Linked DNA regions of Homo sapiens: regions 1, 2, 3, 4 and 6 are each reported to be linked to region 5. The links are microRNA targets in miRTarBase. Many come from high-throughput screens and were not tested one by one. Region 5 holds a microRNA gene; each other region holds the end of a gene's coding sequence.

Evidence for each region. Region 5 holds the annotated microRNA hsa-miR-374a-5p (UUAUAAUACAACCUGAUAAGUG, at 2,890-2,911, opposite strand). A microRNA usually pairs through its seed, bases 2 to 8, with sites in the 3' UTR of a target mRNA and lowers its output. Matches are read on the target gene's strand: a 7mer-m8 pairs with bases 2 to 8, a 7mer-A1 pairs with bases 2 to 7 and ends in A, and an 8mer does both.
Region 1: miRTarBase lists LMLN as a target of hsa-miR-374a-5p. Seed matches in the 3' UTR shown: 7mer-m8 at 1,417-1,423 and 7mer-m8 at 3,948-3,954.
Region 2: the mRNA of GADD45A is a reported target of hsa-miR-374a-5p. Seed matches in the 3' UTR shown: 8mer at 3,177-3,184.
Region 3: the mRNA of CREB3L2 is a reported target of hsa-miR-374a-5p. The part of its 3' UTR that is shown has no 7-base or 8-base seed match.
Region 4: the mRNA of PDE12 is a reported target of hsa-miR-374a-5p. Seed matches in the 3' UTR shown: 7mer-A1 at 3,179-3,185 and 7mer-m8 at 3,856-3,862.
Region 6: miRTarBase lists SVIP as a target of hsa-miR-374a-5p. Seed matches in the 3' UTR shown: 7mer-m8 at 2,359-2,365, 7mer-m8 at 1,647-1,653, 7mer-A1 at 1,458-1,464 and 7mer-m8 at 339-345.

What each region holds. Positions count from the first base shown.
Region 1 is chr3:198,038,025-198,042,116 of GRCh38, forward strand. It overlaps LMLN (leishmanolysin like peptidase), which reads left to right. Exons shown (of 17, transcript NM_001136049.3): 17 at 543-4,092. The coding sequence ends at 643. LMLN-AS1 (LMLN antisense RNA 1) reads right to left here and starts at 1,443. Exons shown (of 4, transcript NR_046669.1): 1 at 1,425-1,443; 2 at 1,123-1,200; 3 at 724-834; 4 at 297-639.
Region 2 is chr1:67,687,323-67,691,414 of GRCh38, reverse strand. GADD45A (growth arrest and DNA damage inducible alpha) reads right to left here. Exons shown (of 4, transcript NM_001924.4): 4 at 3,081-3,754. The coding sequence ends at 3,641. Among named protein-coding and RNA genes, the nearest start is that of GADD45A, 4.2 kb to the right of the region's middle. RefSeq lists a silencer at 1,495-1,789 and an enhancer at 4,044-4,092.
Region 3 is chr7:137,877,044-137,881,135 of GRCh38, reverse strand. It overlaps CREB3L2 (cAMP responsive element binding protein 3 like 2), which reads left to right. Exons shown (of 12, transcript NM_194071.4): 12 at 585-4,092. The coding sequence ends at 660. Among named protein-coding and RNA genes, the nearest start is that of DGKI, 32 kb to the right of the region's middle. RefSeq lists enhancers at 1,038-1,771, 1,772-2,503 and a silencer at 1,519-1,813.
Region 4 is chr3:57,559,509-57,563,600 of GRCh38, forward strand. It overlaps PDE12 (phosphodiesterase 12), which reads left to right. Exons shown (of 3, transcript NM_177966.7): 3 at 54-4,092. The coding sequence ends at 496. Among named protein-coding and RNA genes, the nearest start is that of PDE12, 5.3 kb to the left of the region's middle.
Region 5 is chrX:74,284,436-74,288,527 of GRCh38, forward strand. It overlaps MIR374A (microRNA 374a), which reads right to left and starts at 2,922; the gene lies at 2,851-2,922. The region is part of intron 1 of FTX (FTX transcript, XIST regulator); the gene reads right to left. MIR545 (microRNA 545) reads right to left here and starts at 2,774; the gene lies at 2,669-2,774. It overlaps LOC124905199 (a long non-coding RNA gene), which reads right to left. Exons shown (of 2, transcript XR_007068266.1): 2 at 3,430-4,092.
Region 6 is chr11:22,819,477-22,823,568 of GRCh38, forward strand. SVIP (small VCP interacting protein) reads right to left here. Exons shown (of 4, transcript NM_148893.3): 4 at 1-3,657. The coding sequence ends at 3,643. Among named protein-coding and RNA genes, the nearest start is that of LINC02718, 7.9 kb to the right of the region's middle.

The DNA.
Region 1 (4,092 bases), not on the chromosome of region 5:
CTCACAGTCTGTCTGCCTGTTGTCGTTATTGATGCTCCTCTCCCTTGCCTCCTCACAGTCCGTCTGCCTGTTGTCATTATTGATGGTCCTCTCCCTTGCATCCTCACAGTCCGTCTGCCTGTTGTCATTATTAATAGTACTCACCCTTGCATTCTCAAAATGTACTAGTTTGTGTTGATAAATTATATGGTCACCCTACTTAGAAGGTACAAAGAAAGAATAAAAGAAGAAAGTTCTTCACCCCATCTCAGAATAACCAAGATCTTTATCTTTGCTGGGGTACTACCCCAAGGCAATTTTTTTTGGATACCATTTTTTAACCTTGACATAGTGGATACATCATTTCTTCCTCCATATATATTTTTCCTCCATTAAAAAAGAAACAAAAACTTTTTTATACCTGGGTTTTGCTCTTGATTTAGCTCTCAAGGTGGTCCTTGTTTACTTTTTAATAATCACTGCTCTTCATCTGTCAATATTTAATTGGTATGATTTATCCCAAAATTGTTTATAGAAAGTCAGTTTTTTGTTTTCAACTCTAGATCTTTGTTCCTGTTCCTCGAGCCTGGTGGTCACCCTCTGGCTTCTGCTAGGCAATCTGTTTCCTCTGCTGGCTGGATTTCTTCTGTGTATATGGCACTAGGAATGGAAAAGTGGATCTTCAAGATATTCTTTTATGTTATGTTCTTGTGAACAAAGCACAAAGTTTGAGTGAGTGCCAACCTATGCAGATGGTAGAAGTGGCATTCCTGGCTTTGGCTTGGAAGAATTGACGACCATCAGACCTTGAAGCAGAACTTCACAGCAGCCTGTCCTCATCAGCAACCCAACCACCTTCATCAGCAACCCAACCACCTTCATCAGCAACCCAACCACCTCGTCAGCAACCCAACCACCTCGTCAGCAACCCAACCACCTCGTCAGCAACCCAGCCACCTTCATCAGCAACCCAACCACCTCATCAGCAACCCAGCCACCTTCATCAGCAACCCAACCACCTCATCAGCAAACCAACCACTTTCATCTGCAACCCAACCACTTTCATCAGCAACTCAACACCTTCATCTGCAACCCAACCACCTTCATCAGCAAACCAACCACCTTCTTCAGCAACCCAACCACCTCATCTTGGAGAAGGAGAAGGAACTGCAAGCCACCAAGTCTTCATTTTTCAGGGTTTGTAATCTTCCCAAAGTTTTCCTTTGAAAATAGGATAATGGGTGGAATTTTCAGAGTGATTACATACCTCAACATTTTTATTAACATACAACAATGGGAAAGTTCATCATCCATATACTGCAGTCACTTAAACAACAGCCAATTATTGCAAGATTAGAATTGGAGATCTTGTCCTCAAAAGTATAAATTGTCCTTTGAGTTATAGAAAATAATGGAATTGGGATTTCTACATATCATTATTATACCTATTTTAAATTTAATGGCAGCCAGGCATGGTTCCAGCTACTTGGGAGGCTGAGGCAGGAGGATCGCTTGAGCCCAGGAGTTCAAGGCTGCAGTGAGCTATGATTGCACCACTGTATTCCAGCCTGCACGATAGAGTTAGACCCTGTATCTTAAAAAAAAAAAAATTAATGGCTGGTATATAGTAAACTTAATTCACTGTTCCCATTGTTCTAAAGAATTTTTTTAAATAATGTTTCATTAAATCTTATGATTTAACCGTGCTTGCCCTTTTTGCCAGCTATGTGGCAGTTTACGGCAGAACTGCTGTCAGTGTGCTGGTAGCCCTCTATTCATCCCTCCTCAGAGCCCAGCTTCCAGAACTGCTATCACTGTGCTGGTAGCCCTCTGTATTCATCCCTCTTCAGAGCTCAGCTTCTGGTTGTATTCTCCATGAGTTTAATAATGACATGAAAAAATGTGGAAGCCGAGAGAGTAAAATACTCTGCCCTGTAAAAACATGGAAGACATGCAAACAGAAAAAAAATAATTGTATTGTTTTAGATAATACTTAAGACAACTGTGAAACAACAAAAACACAACTATTCCTTTGTGACCGATGAAGATAAAAAGAAATTCTGGTAAAGACGGGTATGCAGTTTTTTAAAATGGGTTAAGAAATTGTTGCAGAAGAATTTCTAACATCTGAAAATGGTTTTATGTTTAAGAAGGATGGTCTGAATTGTGTACTAATAGCAAGGTATAAGTTTGGTGTAGAGCCTATCCAGTAGCGTCCACTGTACCACTTTTAAGTAAGACTCAGTCCACAGAAGCTGGAAGATTGCCTTCGCTTTAAATATCCTTTACCTTCTGCATTTGACACTCCTCCTGTTACTACATAGATTCCGGTCCCCAGAAGCAATTTTACACTGGTACTAGAGCTTACCAGCCCCATTTAGTAATTTTTAATGGCTAGATGAGGTTTAACAAGAATATGAAAAGAAAAAAGAAAAAATATATTCATGAATGATAGGCGATGCCCATTCTTTCTCTCAAGCTAATGAAGTCCTATGGCATTCTAACCACAACCCTCGGACAGACTCCTCCTATTCCTCCATGGCATTGTAACCACAACCCTCGGACAGACTCCTCCTATTCCTCCATGGCATTGTAACCACAACCCTCGGACAGACTCCTCCTACTCCTCCATGGCATTGTAACCACAACCCTCGGACAGACTCCTCCTACTCCTCCATGGCATTGTAACCACAACCCTCGGACAGACTCCTCCTACTCCTCCATGGCATTGTAACCACAACCCTCGGACAGACTCCTCCTATTCCTCCATGGCATTGTAACCACAACCCTCGGACAGACTCCTCCTATTCCTCCATGGCATTGTAACCACAACCCTCGGACAGACTCCTCCTATTCCTCCATGGCATTGTAACCACAACCCTCGGACAGACTCCTATTCCTCCATGGCATTGTAACCACAACCCTCGGACAGACTCCTCCTATTCCTCCATGGCATTGTAACCACAACCCTCGGACAGACTCCTTCTGTTCCTCCTTTCCTCGTCCTTCCCTGCTTTTCGTCCATTCAGCATATAGCTATTCAGTACTCCATTGAAGAAATTATGCTAAGTGAGCAAAGCAACATAATTACTAAGAATTAATTCTGATTATTTGGCACTAGAGCCAACAGCAACCCCAGCACAGAGGAAAGTCGCTTTTTTTTCAAATGCATAAATTTAAAGTATGTATTTGCATGCAGTTTTAAATGGGAGGTATTTGTCATTGTGAAAAGCTGGGAATCTCAAACATAGTCAACTTAACTAAAAAGAAGCTAATACAGGTTGAGCATTCCTAATCCAAAAATCCAGAATCCAAATTGCTCCAAAATCTGAAACTTTCTGAATGCTGACCTGATACTACAAGTAGAAAATTCCACATACAAGTACTTAACACAAACTTTGTTTCATGCACAAACTACTAAAAATATTGTATAAAATTACCTTCAGGCAGTGTGTGTAGTTATATATGAAACATGAATTTCATGTTTAGACTTGGGTCCATGCCCAAGATACCTCATTAGGTATCTGTAAATATCCGAAATCCAAAAAAAAGTCTGAAATCTGAAACACTTCTGGTCCCAAGCATTTCAGTAAGTGATGCTCAACCTGCGTAATGGTCTGCGGGCCAGTGCTCATTTTCTGCCTATGTTGTACATACTTTAAATTGTGTAAATTAAAAGTCAAAGCAAAGAGTCTATTTTTAAAGAAACTTACAATAATCTAAACATATACTTCTTATGATTATGAATCATCCTGCAAAGCTGAATGAAGAATTTTACCAAAAATACAATGAATTAATCATATATTTGAGAGTCACAGTGATAGGTTCGACTATATTTTGACTGTTGTGTAGTGGCACCGTTTAGGTAGTATTGTTTCTGAGCATGGTGCTTTTTATACTTGAAATATATTTTTGCTTTATTTTTTATTGATATAATTATATTTGCACTAATGGCTTTCTGAAGAAAATATTATAGATGACATTTTTTGTATATATATTTATTAAGCTTGGGAACCTGGTCGCCCAGTGTTTTCTCTGGACAAATGTGAAACTGGATAAAGTATGGATAAAGTCTTGAGTTCCTCAGGGTAACTGTGTTGATGTCTCCCGTCC
Region 2 (4,092 bases), not on the chromosome of region 5:
ATATTCAATCAATCGATCACATTTTTGTGCTGTTTGCAAAATACGATGCTAGCTTATGAACAAAGAGTTTACAACCTTTTTCTCCATTCCATTCCTATATGCCTTCTGGAGATTTCTATCCTTTGAACTTCCAGAACAGTTCTCTGGGCCTTTCTTACGTTGCTGGTAATTTTCTGTTTTGTATTTATGTAGTGATACGAAGTCCTTGAGGCCAGAGTGTGTGTCTGATTTTTTTTTTTTTTTTTTTTGGTAGACTTCAATATAGCCAGCATAGTCCCTTGTCCACAGTAAGCACTCACTTAATATTTCTTGGTGGTTTTCATGAATACGACCTTTTCACAGAGGTTCTTATGTTTACCAAAGTATTGTTAAAAAGAAAAAAAGTATTCACTTCTTTGAGGGATACTTACTTGGTGTCAAATCATGCCACTGAGTTTTGTTCATTTGAAGAGAACTTATCTCCCAAATTTCAGTCTTTTACCACATATCAAAGAATAAAATTCTACCTATATAAATGAAAATTAAGCAATTATTTCACAAGGGCTCCAGTAAGGCATCTCAAAACATGCTTTGGAAATATTTCAATTGACAGTATACAAATAATTCTTTCCTAAAAAATGACCCTTTTTTCTTTATTTGGGAACTAAGGTATGTATTATAGGAGATTAGCTACTTTCATGGGTCCTTTCATTATAAAAGTTTAACTTACCAAGATCCTAGGTTAAGTGTGGAAAGGAGGAAGCAATGCTATTTATGACACTGAGGTGAAGTTGCCAGTGGAAAAATTAGGTATTTTCCACTTTTCAACATTCAATACACCTTAGGTAGATGAGGGGATTTCTGTTCTTGTTGTAACGTAGCTTGCAATAAGTACATTTAATGGTTTTTAAGGCAACGACTAAAGAATATTTGCATCAATTAGAGATAGAAGCCATCCAGGTAATTTTATATTTGTTTAAAATTAACTGTTTCATGATTGGGTTTTTCAATGCTGTGTTAACTTTATGTTATGCTCAATCAGGAAAGAAAAACAAGAGTTTAAAATTTTTGAAGAAACCAAATGGCATTACAGTAATTGTTGAGATTTTCCTCAAAACAATCTGAAGAATGTATAAGTACTATTACATATCTCTAAGCATTATGAATTTAGAATAAAGATCAAAAATTCTTTTTGAAAAACATAGTTATATAGATGTACATGTCATAACACAGATCTCTCTGATGCCTTAAGTTTTCCTATTGCTATCACCTGGGTTTTAGAAACAGCCACACTCCATTGAGCACCTATCATGTGCCAGGTAGTTTGTATTCATTATTTCTAATCATTCATTTATTCAATAAATATTAATTCAGCACCTACTGCTTGCTGGCACTTGTGTCCACTACTGGGCTACAATAATGAACCAGACATTACCTGCCTTGAGGGAGGTTGCAGAGTTGTAGGAGAGGCCACAAGTCTGCAAGATAGGTAATCTTATCTCCATTTTACATGAGTAAAACAGGATGAAGAAGGACTAATCAAGGCTAGCTGCTACTGTGCTCGTTCCACTAAGCAAACCAGCTTTATCCACTGTGTGTCTCCACTTTAATTCATTCATCTCTGCAAGAGGGTTCTTACCAAATCGTTGTGAAAAAGGGCTGAAAAAAACCTTACTTCAATGGGAAGGCAAAACACCTTGCTATTTAAAACTCACTGCTCTCAATCTTTTGGTAATGTAAGAAACAAATATTAAATACCAGTTATGTTTTGGAGTGGGCACTGGATTTTAAAAAGATACAAGAAGCCTAAATAAGCCTAAAAACCCACATTTCTAGCAGATGTAGAAAAAGTCACTTGTGAAAAGATACAAGAAGCCTAAACAAGGCCTAAAACCCCACAATTCTAGCAGATGTGGGAAAAGAGAGTCATTTGCAAGGTGAAGGGCTCATGGAGCTATGTATTCATAATATATGCAGAAACTTGGAGCTTTTTGTTGCTATTAGTGGGTTTTCCCTACCCTTTCTTCTGATTGTATGTAGTCATGACTAGGATGAAAGACAGATGGCAGGGGAGCCATAAGGGGGACGGTTTGAGAAATAGGATAAGAAAATTCCTGTGGACAAAAGCAAGGCTAGGCCTTGCCTCCATAAGCATTTTTGCTTTCTTTGGTCTATGCCTACAAGATTGTTGGAGTTAATTATCAAGTGACTGTTCTAACTAAAAATGATTGTTCTACTGAAGACTTTTCTTTTGCTTTTCTTCTCTGCCATCTATTCCATCTGATAGAATTTAAGCAGACCCCTCAGAACCATAGAAATGTTCAGCTGGAAAGCACAAAGCTTTAGGAAGAGACTAGGGGCAGCAAAAAACCTTGCCTGGCCACTTCCCTGTTTGCTCTGTAAAAATGGTTCTGCAAAATGCACAACCTTGGATTCTTAGTCACTTCCTAACTGGCCTTGTCACCTACAGCTGCTCATCCCAATAATCATCTTTCACAGACCCCGGTGTTACTTTCCTAGAACACTGATCATGCCACTTCCTTCAGGGGCTCCGCTATCTGCCTGAAGTTTACAGAAGGAAGCCCAAATGCATAAGGGTAACACAGAATGCCTTCACAGCCTGGGCCTAATCCCCACCTTCCTTTTCAGCCCCGCTGCTCCCTTATCTTTCTACACCAGAGGCACACACACAATCACTCTGTTTTTACTGACCTGGTTGTGGTCTTTCAGGCCTCCACACCTTTGCACAAACTAATGCAGCTGCTAGCAATATCCCTTTGCCCTCTGTAACTAGGGAAATAAAACTCACTAAGACCAACATAAAATGATCTCTCTTCAGTAAAAACTGGTAGGTAACTTTAGTCACTCTGTCCTCTCTGCCTCCTCAACATTTTGTGTATAATCTTATTACGGCGCTAATATCATTTATCTTTAATTATTCAAATTTTGCAAGCTGAATCTCTAACCATCCCTTTTTCCTGACAACTCCAACTCCTTTAAATCACCTGCTTTCTGATTATAGACCTGGTATACAGCAAAGCGTCAGTAAAATGTGTTTAATAAAGTACAAGTTAAAAGAAACAAGAGCACACAATAAGAAATGATGCAATTATTCATACCAGTTTATTGTAGGTATTGTGTTTCAAAAAATTTATAGCATAAATAACTTTTCATGTCATAAAATAACTTAGTAGAATTTATAATAAAACTTTGAGAATTTAATATCTCATCAAAATACAATAAAATATGGTTTTCAAATATGATTAACCCTTTCGGCTTTTCTTTTACTTGAGGGCATATAAACCAAAAATACCCAAACTATGGCTGCACACTTAAACTTTAACATATTTGGTTTATTTTAATGTAACTCAACCATTCTAAATTAATACATAGTTTTCCTTCCTGCATGGTTCTTTGTAATTTTTGTTCCTTTTGACTTATTTTTCTGTTTCAACACAGCTTCCTTCTTCATTTTCACCTCTTTCCATCTGCAAAGTCATCTATCTCCGGGCCCCCAGAACATGTAGTTGAACTCACTCAGCCCCTTGGCATCAGTTTCTGTAATCCTTGCATCAGTGTAGGGAGTAACTGCTTGAGTAACTACAAAGGTATTTCAAAAACTTCAGTGCAATTTGGTTCAGTTATTTTCATTCAGATGCCATCACCGTTCAGGGAGATTAATCACTGGAACCCATTGATCCATGTAGCGACTTTCCCGGCAAAAACAAATAAGTTGACTTAAGGCAGGATCCTTCCATTGAGATGAATGTGGATTCTGGAAACAAATTTATAAAAATAAACTTATTTTAAAAACCAGTATATTCTAGTAATTATACTTTTGAGGAGAAAACACTTGAACATTCTATATTTTGGCTATGTGACATGGAGACAAATTAGAAGCACAAAAAAATTAAAGTTTCTTCAAGGTAGTTGGGTTCCCTGCAAAAGCGTTAAGGGTAATTACCTATTAAACTACACATTGCAAAGTCTGAACCCATGCAACCCAAGCTGAACCACATACATATGTTTGCATATCTGTTCAGTTTTGCATGAGAGTATCATTCACCGGTTTGCTCTACCAAACTTGTTACCCTGACCTGAGTGAAACAGTTT
Region 3 (4,092 bases), not on the chromosome of region 5:
CTCTTCTCTCAGCTAAGCTGTTCAAGGCCCACTTCAAATCCCATTTGTTCTGTGATGTCTCCTAGATAACAAAGCCTCCTAGCCCTCCTCTGAATGCCTAGAAATTTTCCAGGTTGTTACACAATTTAATAATGTATTTATTTTCTGTTATGGATTTATTATTATTTCAAATTAGCTCATTGTTAAAAATCTTTATCTGGATTATTAGCTCTTCTAGGCCAAGGATCAGCTCTTATCATTTTATTTTCTCCTTCCCTGAGTTTAGCATAGGGCTAAACATCCTAAGTAAATAGAATAATTTAATGCATCTCATAGCAGATCAATATCAAGCCACCATGATTATCCTTAGTAGGGTTGGGATGCCTTGGGTGTAGATAAAGGTAGGAATGTGGACTAGTGGAGAGGCTGGTAGCAGGGGACTTTGGAAACAGAGAATTGCTACTAGGAGAGAAAAGGACAAGAAACATGCCCAGGCCGTCTCACCAAGTTGCAACCCCTGAATGATTGCATCACGCTACAAAGCATGAGAATTGTAGCTAACAGCTGGTGACTAATACTTCGTTTTCCTTTTAATGCCTTCACAGGGTCAGCGCCAAACTGGAGGGGAATGAAACACTAAAAGTTGTAGAACTCGACAGAAGAGTGAACACCACTTTCTAAAGAGGCTGCCTGCACCCCCTCCCTTTCCCTTAACTCTACTTTTACATCCCCAAACCACCTTTGTCATCAGCTTTTCCTCTTTGCCACTGGATCTTCATGGAGACATGGGCAAGCATTAGTGGCTTCAGATTGGAGACCAGCCTGGGACTTCCCTGCAGTGAGAGAGCATCTCCCCCTGGTCCATGCCCCTCCTGTGCAGAAGGGAGCCTGCATCCCTCCCTTCCTTTCTCTTACTGCCATAGGAAATTATTTTAGGGGTTGGAGGTGGGACAAGCAGGCTTGTTTCCACCAATAGTGCCAAAAAGATATTGCCTAATGTGCACCTGTGAGGTGTAACCCCCCGCTTTGGAGACGAGATGGCTCTTGTTCAGTCAAGACCCCAGACTCTGGCCACAAAAATGCCATAATGCCTGTTGGTATTTGGCAAAGCACTGACCCGTGTCCTCCGTTGCTCGCACTGGGGTCTCTGGTGTGAACACCCCCGACAGCAGCCCTCCGCCCACTCTGCCCCCTGGGAGCCCTCGCTGGATCGTCTCGTCTCCTGCAGCAGCACTGGCAGGCGAGGGCTCTCGTTCATATTCTCAGGCCGCAAGTGCAATGCCTGAGGGGATCAGGCTTTTCTACTCCAGGCAAACCTGCCCCATCTTGTCGCTTTTAGGACCTCCCACAACCTGGTTCCCCACACATCCATAGTTCTGCCTCCCCAGCTTCTCCTCCCCAGTTGTAAATAGTATTTATTAGCTTGCCGAGGCTTCCTGCTAGCAACCACACTGAAGAGATCGATGCCTCCTTTCAAGCTAGCCAAGTTTTCTGCGAGCCTTCAGAGCTAGGAGGGCACCCTAGGCTCTGGGATCCCGTGTCTTTCCAGACAATGTTTTGTTTCCTTTCCTTTGTTTTTTCTTTTAACTGGAATAATTACCATTGAAAAAGAAGTTCCTTTGAGCATGTATGTGTCTGCCTCTAGGATGAGCTCAGAGCGAGAGATGACACAATGCCTCACTCAGGCCCCGGGCTCCCTGGCCACAAGCTTTTTCTATCCTGTTTTCATGACAGAGAAGGGGAAGCCCTGTTCTGACAACAGACATTTCAGACAACCTTGCTGGCTTTCCACACCTGCCTGGCCCCCTCCTCCCTCCACACTTCCACTTTGTCCTCCTCGTCCCCTACCTCAACAAAGCAGGGTGGGGTAGGTGACATTTGTGTATCCACATTCTTACCTTTGGTAGTCAGGTTTGGCTACTTTGCAGCTCGCCCAAAGAGATACAACCTAATCCCCAACCTACTTTTAGTTTTTTTGTTTTTTTTTTATGGTTAAAAGTAACTTTTGTAGTTTAAAAAAATCTTTCCTCTTTCATATAAATAAGAAGTGGAAATTGCCTTTTTATTGTGTAATGTAGAAAACCCTCAAGTGTTTTTTCCGAGCTTGGGAAAGATTTTGTGTAGGAAATGTGCATAGAGTTTGTATTTTATTTTTATTAGCAGCTGAAATGCCTTTGGTTTTGGCTTCTCTCTCTCCCTCTCTCTCTCTGTCTCTCCTTCTCTCTCTCCCCCCACCACCCACCCCCACACACGTCATCTGCATTGTTATTGGAGCCTGTACTTAGAGGGATTAAGCCCACACCCTGGCTTCCATTCCATATCAGGTACAGGATTTGATGTTATTAACATTTGTCGTCATACCTCATAAGTCGGTCCCTGCCTTGTCTGTCTAGGCCCATTTGGGGCTCCCTGTGAGTGATTCCCCTCTCTCTGCTATGCTGGAGACGGTTCCAGCCTGGAAAGCGGCCAAGTTCATCTTCTCACTGTGAGTGGAAGCTGGATCGGGCCCCCGTAGTCCTGGCAGCCCTGTTGTCTGGAGGGTTCTTGTTGTCCCTCCCATTAGCCAGGGCGGAGACTGTCTGAGCTGTGCAGGAGGAGGGTTGCTAGTAGGTTCTGCTTCTGCTTCTCTCTGCTCCACTGTCTGCAGCCCAGATCCTGTTGGGCCTGGCTGGTGTCTGGTAACCATGGGCCTCCACTGACCCATCCCTCTCTTTTAAACTGTCAGGTCATTATCAGGCATAGGCAGCCTATAGGGCCCAAAGAAGGCAAAAAGATAAGATTTACTCAAGTAGCATTTGGGCAATGAGGAAGGAAAGGTTTCAAATTTAGGGGCAGAAGTGAGAGAATGAGCCAACCCATGTACCTGCTGCAACTGAACCAGACTGGGTTTTCAAGGCTCCCAGACGTAGAGTAGGAAACGTGCTCTTCTAAATGAGGAGGGAGAAGATAAAGGAAACTTCTAGCCCCTGTCCTTAGTGCTTTGAGGATTTTATTTTCTCCCTTACTACGCTTGCTTGACGTCACTCTCTCTCGACCTCCAAACAGCAGGACTCTTTCTCTGGGAAACCATCCTTCCAAAACGGAATCTATGTAGACAATGGGACGTTAGGCAGAGAGCTCAGATGGCCCTTTTAAGGGGGCTCCAAGAACCAACATCACTGCTCTTTTAGATAAACCTCTGCCCTCCACTCCTTGCTTGAGTGGGTTAAAGGAACTAACAGTTGTCCCTTTAGGAGGACAAAATGGGGTCAAGAGGACACAGAAGAGTTGTATAGCACCAGATTGGTTCCAAATAGTTAATGGATGTGTGCACATTTTCTGTTCAGGGATTAAGACCAGAATATCAGTGGATTTGTTTTCCCCACCAAGTGGCCTCTTAGACTAGTCATTAACTTATGATTAGCTCTAAAGATTTCAAATAGTGGCAGACAGTGTCTTCTGAATGTAAGTTTTGAGAAATACGAGTCTGTCAGAGCGGCCATAAGCCATAAAGAGTCAATCTCTTAATTATATTTTTCATCATGTAAACAAGTTTCCCATTTCCCTTTCTTAGATTGCACCAGTGAAGGAGATGTTTTGCAAAGATTCAGAGAACTAATTTTTCACTGGATAAGACCTGAGTAACCCAGACCCCCCACCGTGGTTCTTTTCACAGCCCTCGACTTTGCACTTAAAAAGGGATATTGTAAATGAAAGGCTGCAGTGCCAGTTTTAAGAAAGAATTTCTGTGAAGTGTGAGGACTCTGGAGTCTAGCTCACATAAAGAGAGTGTTATATAAAAATCCGACAGCTGAACTAGGTTGCTCTTTTTTGGCAGGGAGTGGGGATGAGATTTGACACCAATATGGGCAAAATTAGATAACCTTTTGGTTAATATAAATGATTTTGATTTGGAGGCCTAATTTGTAGATTGTGAAAGCAGCTTTTAGTTTAACTTATTCACAGACCCCTTATAATTACCATGTTTTTTTTTTTCTTCCTAAATCTCTTGGTTCAGCTTGTGAATCTTACGTGCCCGTAAAGTTGGGATGTTGAATTGGCTCTTCTTTGTTCTGGCAGTGAGTCAAGTGTCCAGCATTTTTTCATAAGTGTTTTTTAAAATTGTTCTCCAGC
Region 4 (4,092 bases), not on the chromosome of region 5:
AACTTAAAGACAACTTTAAAAAATACTTACATTAATGTTTTTTATATTCATAGGTGGGTATATTCGCCTCATTCAAATGGCAGTAGCCTTGGCTCACATAAGACATGTTTCATGTGATCTGTATCCTGGCATACCAGTTATATTTTGTGGGGACTTTAATAGTACACCATCAACAGGAATGTATCATTTTGTCATCAATGGCAGCATTCCAGAGGATCATGAAGACTGGGCTTCCAATGGGGAGGAGGAAAGATGCAATATGTCTCTTACACATTTCTTCAAGCTGAAAAGTGCTTGTGGTGAACCTGCTTACACAAATTATGTTGGTGGCTTTCATGGATGTCTAGATTACATTTTCATTGACTTAAATGCTTTAGAGGTTGAACAGGTGATTCCATTACCTAGTCATGAAGAAGTTACCACCCACCAGGCCTTACCTAGTGTTTCCCATCCCTCTGATCACATAGCACTTGTATGTGATTTAAAATGGAAATAGATGTGTGTTTAATGGAATTGAAGTCTGAAAAGGAAGTAGTTATTTTAGCAGAAAATTTAATATGAATCAAAGCTTATATGTAAACTTCAAGGAGGAATGGTAAAATGTTCAGCCCTCCTAGTTATGTTCCTGATGTCTTCGTTATGAAACTGTTGATGTTTGCATCATACATCTTCTCTTTCCTTGTTTTCCTCTACAATTGGAGGAGAAACAAATATATTTCTTACTAGCAAAATAGAAAATTGAATTATTTTTCTCCAAATTGAGACTCTCAGAAAAGGAAGATTGAATTAGCGTGTTTTTTGTTTGTTTGTTTTTGTTTTTGTTTTTGTTTTTTTGAGATGGAGTTTCACTCTTGTTGCCCAGGCTGGAGTGCAATGGCACAATCTCGGCTCACTGCAACCTCCGCCCCCTGGGTTTAAGCGATTCTCCTGCCTCAGCTTCCCGAGTAGCTGGGATTACAGGCGTGCGCCAACATGTCTGGCTAATTTTTGTATTTTTAGTAGAAATGGGGTTTCGCCACGTTGGCCAGGCTGGTCTTGAACTCCTGACCTCAGGTGATCCACCCACCTCGGCCTCCCAAAGTGTTGGGATTACAGGCGTGAGCCACCGCACCCGGCCCTTGTGTACATTTTTATAAGAGAATTTTTTTAGCTAGGAGTTCAGAATTTTTAAAGTACCATTTGAATGATCTTAATTTTTCTTTCATGACAACACATTCCAAAATGAATCATGCTTATGTACTAAGAGGGAAAATGTATTTAAGTTAAGGGTGAGAGACTTAAGTTATAGGTGACCTTAGAGACCTAAGGTGAGAGACTTGACACATGGAAGGAGTAACATTAGGGTCTACCTCTACCTCAATTTAGTTAGCGATTTACTACAATTTCAGAGCTTTAACAAAAGATAAAAATAAATCGTCACCAATTGTTATTGCTTCTCATCTTTCATTTTTCAATGAACAAGTAAGGTATTTTCATTCTTATTTTTAGGATTTTAGTTTTTAGTGTATGGTACAAATGAACACAGTTTATATTCTAATTCTTACTGCAGCTCATTTTAATTTTTAGGATGCAAGCACAATTTAGTATTCAAAGTGAGTAGCAACATATTCAACTTGATCCCATTGTCTTCAGTTACTCTTGCCCATGAAAAATGTTCATAAATGAACAGGGTATTTGACCATATGATATTAGAAAATACAGCACATTACTTTATGAGAAACTACCTACTGATATGGGCTTGAAATTTTGGATGAATCATTGAGCATTTCTACACTAGAAGTAATTTCAAAATTGTTGGTTTTTATAAACAGGAAAAAGGTTGAGTAGTGGGACTTTTAAGCATCTCTGAAATAAAAAACTTCTTTTTACAGACAAGCATTATAGTTTGAGTTACAGACAACAGTGTGTATATATGTAATATATATATAGTAAAATGAAATTTAAATATGAAGCCAAACTTTTTAAAATTAGAAACTACAAATGGTTATACTGATTAGTGTCTAGCCTAGAGTGGTAACCATGCTTTACTAATTCAGTTATGAAATACATTATTTATAATGCATTAGCTGTATTAGCTGTTGCTTTTTTGATGTTCAGGATAACTATGTTATCTCATTTCTGCATTTAATTAATAGCTCGAGTATTAAAAGCCCACTCCCTTCAAGAAAAGCTTTGATTTTCCCCAGTCATGAAAGCCCTTGTTTCAAATTCTTTAATCTCTGAACCTAGTATCATAAGAATTTCCTCTTTTGATAACATCTGTACTTTCATATTCTGCTCACTATCAAATGTATTGTTAACACTTAGTAAGTTTGAAAATGAAGGGGTTTTATCTGCATTTGACATTGAACCTTGAAGTACTTTAAGTACTCCAAGGGGAAAATTAAAGTGGAAGTTTCTTCGGATCTTGTTTAGAAAAAACTATAAATAAAAAATTGATGCTACCAAATTGTGCCTTCCTAAATAACATTTTTGAGAGCATTTTAACAGCAGTTTACAAATATGTAAATAATAGATTAAAACCAAATCTTGATTCTCTTGTGAATTTTTTTTTCATTTTAAAAATATGTTTTTGGGCTGTTTTCAAAGAAAGATGTTGATAGAACCCTTAGAGTGACTTGGGAGAAAACAAAGTGTCACATCAAAAAGTTGAGAAACATTTTGAAAGAAAAAATTCGAACATGCCCATGAAAAAAGCATACAGCTTCCACATTAACACTGGCTAGATTAAACTCTAGTCAGAAAAACTCAGCACTTAACAGACATTCCATGTCCTATATCCTTAATTTTGATGTTTTCTGACTAAACAATATACTCAGATTGTATACAGGCATTTCACATTATTAGGACATGGAATGTTATTGTGAAGTGCCATATACTGTGATCAAATCTCCAGTATACGGATACGTTAAAATGATTGGAGTCCAAAGGTAGGGAACACTAAGAAAATGTATAAATAGCATACACATTTCTTTGTACTCATGAGTTAGAATGCAGTGTTATTCAGAAATGTCTGTTTAAAGCACCTATGTGATTGCATTTTTCTATTACATTTGGATTTTTTAGTACATTTAATTTTAAGAAAACATGGGAAATCTAGCGACTTTCTATGGTAAACCACATTTTATAATGTCACAAGTTCTTGCTATAGGAATTAACATTCTAGAATTTTATATTGATTATAAAAGAGTATTTCAGAACATATTATTCTGTTAAAATGAACTCTTGCACAGTTGCCGCTACAGCAAATGTGTCTGCCAATAATCAAAATTCATGAGCAAACAATCGTTTCTGGCTGTAATGTATGTTCTTTTTGAAATTCTGTATGCTAAAATCAGTTGTTTCAAAATTTCAAGAATTCCACTGAGTAGTGATTTTTCTGAGTACTAAGCTATGATCTCATCAGAATGTGCTGGTTTCAGTCTGGAGATAGATTTCTGAGGAGCCTAATACAAGGGAGAGAATGTCCAAAGAACACTACTGTGGAAAGTTCTTACGATGGAAATTGACATCTTTTGTATCTCATTCTCCAGCCGTGAAATAAAGGCAGAGGTTCCCTGCAAACTAGTTTGGTTGGGATAAATCCAATATTTATATATAATGAAAAATAAAAGTTTGCATTATTAGTTTATCACAAGACCCATGTGACAACTCAGAAAATATTCTCAGCATAATTTTTTTAAGAGATAGAGTCTCACTGTTACCCAGGCTGGAGTGCAGTGGTGCAGTCATAACTTACTACAGCCTCAAACTGCGGGGCTCAAATGATCCTCCTGCCTCAGCGTCCCAAGTAGTTGAGATTACAAGCCCAACCTTCCATAACTGAAAACTAACTTTCTTTTTTTCTTTTTTTATTATTATACTTTAAGTTCTAGTGTACATGTGCCCAACGTGCAGATTTGTTACATAGGTATACATGTGCCATGTTGGTTTGCTGCACCCGTTAACTCGTCATTTACATTAGGTATTTCTCCTAATGCTATCCCTCCCCCAGCCCTGAAAATGAATTTTTTAAACACAAATAAAAAATATTTCAGTGTTTTGAGAATTTTAATAATTTGCTTAATATAGTACAGGAAGGCAACACTATCT
Region 5 (4,092 bases):
TCTACCCTTGAGTTTAAATCAAAGGAGAGAGACACAAACAGGTAACATTTACCATTATCATGTCCATGGATAAAGATAAACAAAATTTCATGGTGCTTCCTAATTGAAACTGCAGCTGTTGCTAACAGAAAAGGCTCAAAGAATACTATTAGACAGTAGCCCAAATTAAAATTCCATTTGCTAGAATTCCAAAGTTATTCTAATGCTAAATATTGCCTCATTGGCATTTCAATATGACATTGTTGTTTCTCCTTTAGCAAGCCTTAAAGGAGAGAACCAAGCAGAAGCTGCTCAGAAAACCACCTACCCTAAAGGCAGAGAAGTGAGTAAGGTGCAGGGCAGTATATGACACTGGACCTGGACTTCCATCTTTCCTTCCCCCTACTATTTCCAGTAAACAACAGTGAGCTATAGCCATTTTCTTTCAGAAACAACGTGGATTCTCTCCCTGGGACTCTCATTCCTGCACAGATCTGCTTACACATAGTTGGGCTGTGCTGGTATTCATGCTGACTTAGAAGACAAAAATAAGAATGAAAAGAAGCTTTTTCAGCACCATGATGGGTCAGATACAGATGACATTAACACAGAAGACAGACAGATTTTTAAAACCTATTCAACAAAGATGAGTTACTGTGATAACACAAACAGTCCTGAATCTTATAGTAACATTTCAGTCACAGGCGCATATACAATGGTGGTCCCATAAGATAATAACACCACGTTTTTACTGTACCTTTTCTATGTTAGATATGTTTGGATATACAAATACTTACCACTGTATTCCAAATGCCTACAGTATTCAATACAGCAACATGCTGTACAGGTTTGTAGCCTAGGAGGAATAGGCTATACCATATAGCCTAGGTGTGTAGTAAGCTATACCATCTAGGTTTGTATAAGTACACTCCCCTATGATGTTCACACAACAACAAAATGACTTAATGATCCATTACTCAGAACATATCCTGTCTTTAAGCAACACATGACTGTATAGTTAAATGTTAATTATAAAATCTAGGTGTTGGGTACATGGCTTTTCACCGTACAATTCTTTCAACTTTTCTGTATGTATGTTTGACAACTTTCACAATACAATTTTGGGAAAAATCCAGCAAGCAGCTTTAAAAATATGGCTGTAAGACCTTTCCTTCTATTATATTTTATTCCTAGGATGATCCTATCCAACGAGATGAACCTATTCAGTGTTTCCTCCATTTTGTTTTAGATTTAGCTTTCTCAAATATGACTTTGAGCTCTCCGACTTTTTAATGAAGTGAAATGAATCAACATGTATTCATAGGCAGGTTACCAAGATAGTACATGTAAAGTTGGGGAGGCACAAGGGGAGGGGCTCTAAGCTCTTGGAAGTCTAGGCTCACTATCTGTATACATCTAAATAAATGAGTATTTCAGACACCCCACTTCTTCATTTAAAAATTAGTGTTAGGGACCCTCTAAACATTTGCCTCAGCTTACCTTTCTGCCTTATCTCACATTAAGTCCTTATTTCCCATATTCTCATTGCAAAGAACTGTGTAGGAAGGAGGGGGGCAAGGACGAAGGCACCAAAGCATGCTATGTCCACGTGCTTCAAGTTTGAATATAATAAAAGGTATTTCTAGAGTAGAGGTTCAAAGCTTGATGTTGAAGGGCAGGGTATAACTGACTGACTGCAGGACCCTGGGGGAGGTCTTATAATCTTCTACTTTAAAACATGTCTTAGCTGGCTTATCTGTAAAAGAGGAAAAAGACTTGTCACAAGCAATGACAAATGAAGTAAATAAATATGAATTTCTGGTCTGGTGAATGGAATGAGAAATGAAACCATCACTGTCGAGTGATGATCCAGAGTGGGCACAGATCTTTTTCTACAAAGGCTTTGTGGGCCACAATGTCTCCAATATATTTAATGGCAAAAACAGCAACTACTTTTGCACCAACCTAATAGCTACTTAATTGTGCCACTGGGCCGCAAAAGCGGCCCCAGGTAAAACATCGATGAATGAACATGGCTGTGTTCCAATATAGAATGGTATTTACAAAAACAGGTAGCCCATGGGCAATAAAGTTTGCCCACCCTTGGTTTAGAATATGGAGTCTGGTTGGGTGCAGTGGCTCACACCTGTAATCCCAGCACTCTGGGAGGCTGAGGGAGGTAGATCGCTTGAGTCCAGGAGTTCAAGAACAGCCTGGGCACCATAACGAGACCCCTTCTCTACGAAAAATACAAACATTAGCCAGGGGTGGTGGCACACACCTATAGTCCTAACTCAGAATGCTGAGGTGGAAGATCACCTGAGCCTAGGAGTTCGAGGCTGCAGTGACCCGTGTTCGCACCATTGCACTCCAGCCTGGGCAACAGAGTGAGAACCTGTCCCTTAAAAAAAAAAAAAAAAGAAAGAAAAATGCAAAGTCCTATCTAAGAATACTATTTGGATGATTACCTGGGCCCTGAGGATGAGGCCCCAATCTAACAGTTATCACTCAAGTCCCACCAAGAAAGCAAGTGTCAGCAATAGCAACAGTTGCAACATCTGTAAATATCAAGGACTGAAATCCAAACACAAAAATGGCATTGTCTCATGAGAAACTCTTAGGAAGATATATACAGAAATATCAAATTTCTGACCACATGCTTTTTGAAGAAACAGCTGACAATCCAGAGCCTGTGGAGCTCACTTTAGCAGGCACACAATAAATGTTTGCTGATGAGTCATTCATTTATTCATCTAATAAACATTTACTGAGGCCTACTAATGTGCCAGGCTGGGCTCTGGAGATGAAGACACCTTCCTTGCCCTCAAGGAGCTCACAGTCTAACTGATAACAGGAAGAGAGACAGGCATATACACAGACAATTACAATACAATCTGATAAGTGCTATAACACTTATCAGGTTGTATTATAATGGCCGATGTAAAATTTCTTCCCAGGGGGTGCTGCTCCAGGCTGCTGCTGGCTGTAACATCAAGAGAGGTGAGGAACAAATTATAGAAATCAAAGGTTAAATGCTTTTCGGTTATTTCAAATATTCAGGCTTTCCCTAACCCGTGGCCATAGACGGAATTGGGAACTAGACACTGGCATGATGTAAAATGGGACTTCCATGCACAGACTTCCAATAAAGGAACTTCTCAATCCCCTCCTCTAAAATATGAGCTTTTTTTTTTCCTTTTTGCTTATACTCCTCTTAACCTCCCCACCCTACTACCCACATGAGCCTGGTTTAATATCTACAGCTAGCAAAATGCTGAAAAATGGGAGCTTACAACTAACTGGATTAACCCAGTGTAACCGGATAGCAAAAAGCAGTAAGTAATAGCTCATTTGGCACTTCTAAATCCAATAATCCTCATCCTTCACTGGAAAAAAAAAGTTAGAATGTTATTAAATACAAAATAGATAATATACAGATCAGAGTAGGAATAAGTTAGAAAAGTTTATTTAATAAACATAATTAAACAGATTCTCTAAACTAGAAATAACATTCAGTTTCAGGAAACCAGAATTAGACCCCTCCAAGACCTTTGAGAATATCTAATTCACCTATGTATTATAAACAAGAAAAATGAAACAGAGAGATAACACACTCTGCCCACTCCCTTTTCAAAATCATGTGAGTGATAGTAACAGACTCCTTGAGGCAAGATTATTACTGTAATAGTTATTTGGTTCAGATGGTTTTATACAAAGATAAGATGGCATTTTTCTGTGCCTCATACCTTTCTTAATAATACCTAGGTTTTTACTGGCTTTTTTGTCTCTGACCAGCAAATAGGGCTGATAACATCAGCAAGTTGTTGACAGTTATACTGAGATCACTGTTTTGGGACCCAATGTCTCTATGAGGCTGTTATTTAATAAGCTTAACATACTATTTTCCCCTAAAGTTATTTCACTGCTCTTGCCTATACACTGTTCCTTTCTGCCAATTAGCCCACTCCTGGTGCCTTCTCACATGCTAGCGTGTTCCTATTAGCATTTCACATCCCCAAAGCATTTAACAGTATGTATAAATGTGGACACTTCAATATTGCCCATATCCTCCCTCAGACCACTCAGAAATATTTAAAATAAGACCAGTCCCTG
Region 6 (4,092 bases), not on the chromosome of region 5:
TATAGCCAATGCAGGCCGGGCGCGGTGGCTCATGCCTGTAATCCCAGCACTTTGGGAGGCCAAGGCGGCAGGGATCACCTGAGGTCAGGAGTTCGAGACCAGCCTGACCAACGTGGAGAAACCCTGTCTCTACTAAAAACACAAAATTAGTCAGGCGTGGTGGCACATGCCTGCAATCCCAGCTACTAGGGAGGCTGAGGCAGGAGAATCACTTGAACCTGGGAGGCAGAGGTTGCGGTGAGCTGAGATTGTGCCATTGCACTCCAACCTGGGCAACAAGAGTGAAACTCCATCTCAAAAAACAAAACAAAACCAAAAAAAGCCAATGCAATTCAGGATATAATAACAAAAAAGTATGATATCCACAGGAGTAATGTATGAATACTTAATTTGTAGGCAATAGTTATCACATTCAAAGTCAATATTTGCAAGATGAAGCATAACTAGAAGAGGGAGACTAGAACAATAAAAAGCCATATCAAATGGGAAACTTAGTGTTTTGAGTTACTGGAACCAAAACTTCATCAAAGTCTGTTATACATACAAATGCCTTGTGTCTGTAGCTTTTGAGAAAATTGAAGAAAAAAGCCACAATACTATATTTGAATTAGCTTAGAGCATGTTTAGTAGTTAAGAGAATTTGAAATGCTTGCTTGGAGATGTTAAAGAAATATACCTTATGTCTCAACACATATAGGCAGTCATGGCTACTTACCTCTTACTGGTCTATTCATGCAGAAATTATTCAAAACTGGCAAGAGCTGCTTTTGTCTTCTAAGAACATAGCATAATGCTTATCAGTGAAAATAAAAAGTCAAACATTTGGAGAAAGGGAAAATTCAAAGTTCATGTCCATTTTCCTGGGGTACAAAGGATAGACAGAATTTTTATGATAGTATTATTTCTTTAGGAAAAAACAGGATACTAATTACATCATTTTTCCTTTATAGAAAATCCACCTATAAATCCAGGGATTGTATGAACACACCAAACAACCTTTGGTTCTGTTGCTCTTCTGAATCCCAATGTGATTAAAATGTTCCTGAGGTTTCCCTAACCACCAACTCAGGTTCTAAGTATTTAGGATGTAGTAAAGATAAAATTTTGTTAAAGAGACAGCTAAAGCTAATTTTTACATAGAAAAAAATGTATATTTATATCCCTAAAAGGCAATACAGAATTTATAACCAAACCATGTGTGAGAACTGTTAAATTACATTCCAAATACCAGCAGTGGAACAAACAGAAACACAGAGATGTTTTAAAAAACATGCAGCACGTTACAAAGAGGCCGTGTAATAATTCACAACTTTTGTTAGCAGCCGTTAAGTTTGATTAGTATTAAGCAGCAATGGTTTAAGCAATTTTAAATCATGATATGATAGTTACATATATGCATTTTACTGTTCCAATTATAGTTTAGTAATAGGTCAGGGGTTTGAGCAACATTTTAAGCATTATAATTTTCTCCTAAATTATTTACTATGGGAAATTGGCTTCCACTTAAGGTTTTCATAGAAACTGATGGTTATTTTATGAGGGAGATGTCTGGACGTATGTGTGTATGTGCATGTGTGTGTGTGTATATACACACACATATATAAATTAGAATTTGCAGATATTATGTGTATATATATACACACATATATAATATATATATTATATATATATATAATTTTTTAGTCATGTTTTTAGTCATTTGCTTTTTTTTTTAGTCATTTACCGGTTTCTCATAAGACATCCAGTCACTTCTTTTCCCTTGCCCTTTCCTAACACTGTTCCTAACATTTGGGTACCACCCCTTAGCTCCTGCGACCCATGTGGTTTTGGAGAAAGCTGATCACACTCACGGTGACAGGCCATGGTTGGAAGTAACATGTTCCACTTTTCACGAAAAGTAATAGATCTGAATATCATTCATGGTTAACAATAGATAGTGTGACATTTGGGTATGACCTGCTGGTAGAAATAGGGCATGATTCCCTGGAAGTAAGTCACTTACACCAACCCAAGTTCTAATTCTTTAAGATGTAGTAAAGACAAAATTGTTCTTGCTATATTAAAATGGAAGAAAGGATTTGCAGAGTTCAAGGATGATATGCTCTAGCTCTATATGCACTCCGCTATCAATCATTCCTTTTACTTTCTGCCTTGAAAAAATCATTTTAATAAAATCAAAAATTTTCATTCTAAAATATAGTTCAATGATTTCACTACCCTTTATGAACAAAAACAGCACGAATCCTCTAAAGAAGAAAATTGAGCCAAATTGTTATGTTTTGCCTAGATATTCACACAATATTTCACACCATAATAGAAAAAATAATTTTTCCATGAGAAGTCAAGAGACCTGTATTATATAATAGTTCAAACTTTTAAAAATTAACATGTACAATACACTGCAGTATAACATAATTTTTGTTGGAGGGGTAGATGAAGATAGTGGCTCAGTTTCCTTTGTGTAAAGCAAGTGAACTTGGTCGATTTAACTTAAAATTTCTATTAGCACTTAATATCTGCAAATTTTAATTTAGGGCTCAACATGTGGCCTTGCCATTTAAAAGAGCTATCAGCCTTAATAGCTAACACAAATTCTTTTATTTCAGTGTATTATATAGGAGAAACAAAAAATGCTATAAAATTCATGTTTCTAATGAACAAAAATGTTAAGGTTTATGACTATGCATTGTATAGAATTACCTAATATTTTTATATCTGAAGTAGACCTTTTGTAAGTACAGTACCTACATGTTTTTTTCATACATTCATACTTGCCTTCGCAGTTTCACATCTGTATAAATCTTATGATCGTTCTCTAATAAGTACACAAGATTAACACTACTTATGAAATATGGACAAATATATTACTACTCATTATAACCCATCCAGATTATTAGTTTAACTCATTCAATTACTACAAAGATCCTTACAGAGCTGAATTTAATATACAATAGAACATCACTGCCCTCTGATGGTATCACTAATATATAATTTTAAATTCAGCAAACAAAAAATCCTTTATCATAAAGTAAAACAGGGTATGTTAATTTTATAAGCTACATAAATAAAAATAAATTGGAAAAAATTTTACATCTGCCTAAGAATACTCATTACTAAGTTATAAAAATTTACAGTGCTCCTTCACATCAGCCCTTCAAATGATTTTTTCAAGATTCTCCCTGATGATCAGTTTAAAGGCACTAAGTCCATAAGTTTAATCAAACATCTTCATAGTGAAATAAAAACAGATGTAACGCGATGCAGCACAAATATAAGTAGTTAGATCATTTTATAAAGGATGAAAAGACAACTGCGAATTTTAATCTTAGAGGTATATGCAGAATGTTTACATGCAGTGTATGTATATTCACTATTTAGTTCCATTTTTTAACTACTAAGAAAAATAGCAAATCACCCACTAACTGCAGAAGAGCAAATGTAGGAAAATCAGTATTTAATGAAAAGTCTAGCCATTCTCTAAGCTTGAAAATCAACGTTTTTTTAGCATTGCACTTAAGGGCAATAATATTACAAAGTCTGAATCTTCATTTACTCAAAGAGAAGAAATTAAATTGATGAAGCCCACTTGATTGCAGATAATAAACAGTTATTGGCAGTAGATTCTTCTACTCATGTTATGCTTTATGAAACTGTCCACTAGAAAAGATAAAAAAGAGACAGAAAAGTAAATTTTACTTGAAGTTATATAACAGTACTTCAGTGAACAAACAGGTAAAAAGAGGAATATGGGACATAGAAATACAAAATGATTTTTCTGAATAGCAGCTATTCATAAAATTTTACATTATAGTCCAAAGCCTGAAATAAGATGATAGTTTAAAAGCATAAAGAAGACAAAATATCTGGTCAGATTGGTGGGTAGTTGCAGGATAGCTCTGTCTCACTGTCTTGCCTGTAGTTTTCAAGAGTAACTGTAGAATGTGCTGGGAATGTAACATCCTGGGATAGCAAATGAATGGCCAAGGACAGCTCAAGTTCTGTTCCAGTCCCTCCCTAAAGACAGGACGTCCTTCAATGCTTTAGCCCAAGGAGTCATGTAGTACCTCCCCTTCTAACCCCCAGGTCATAAAA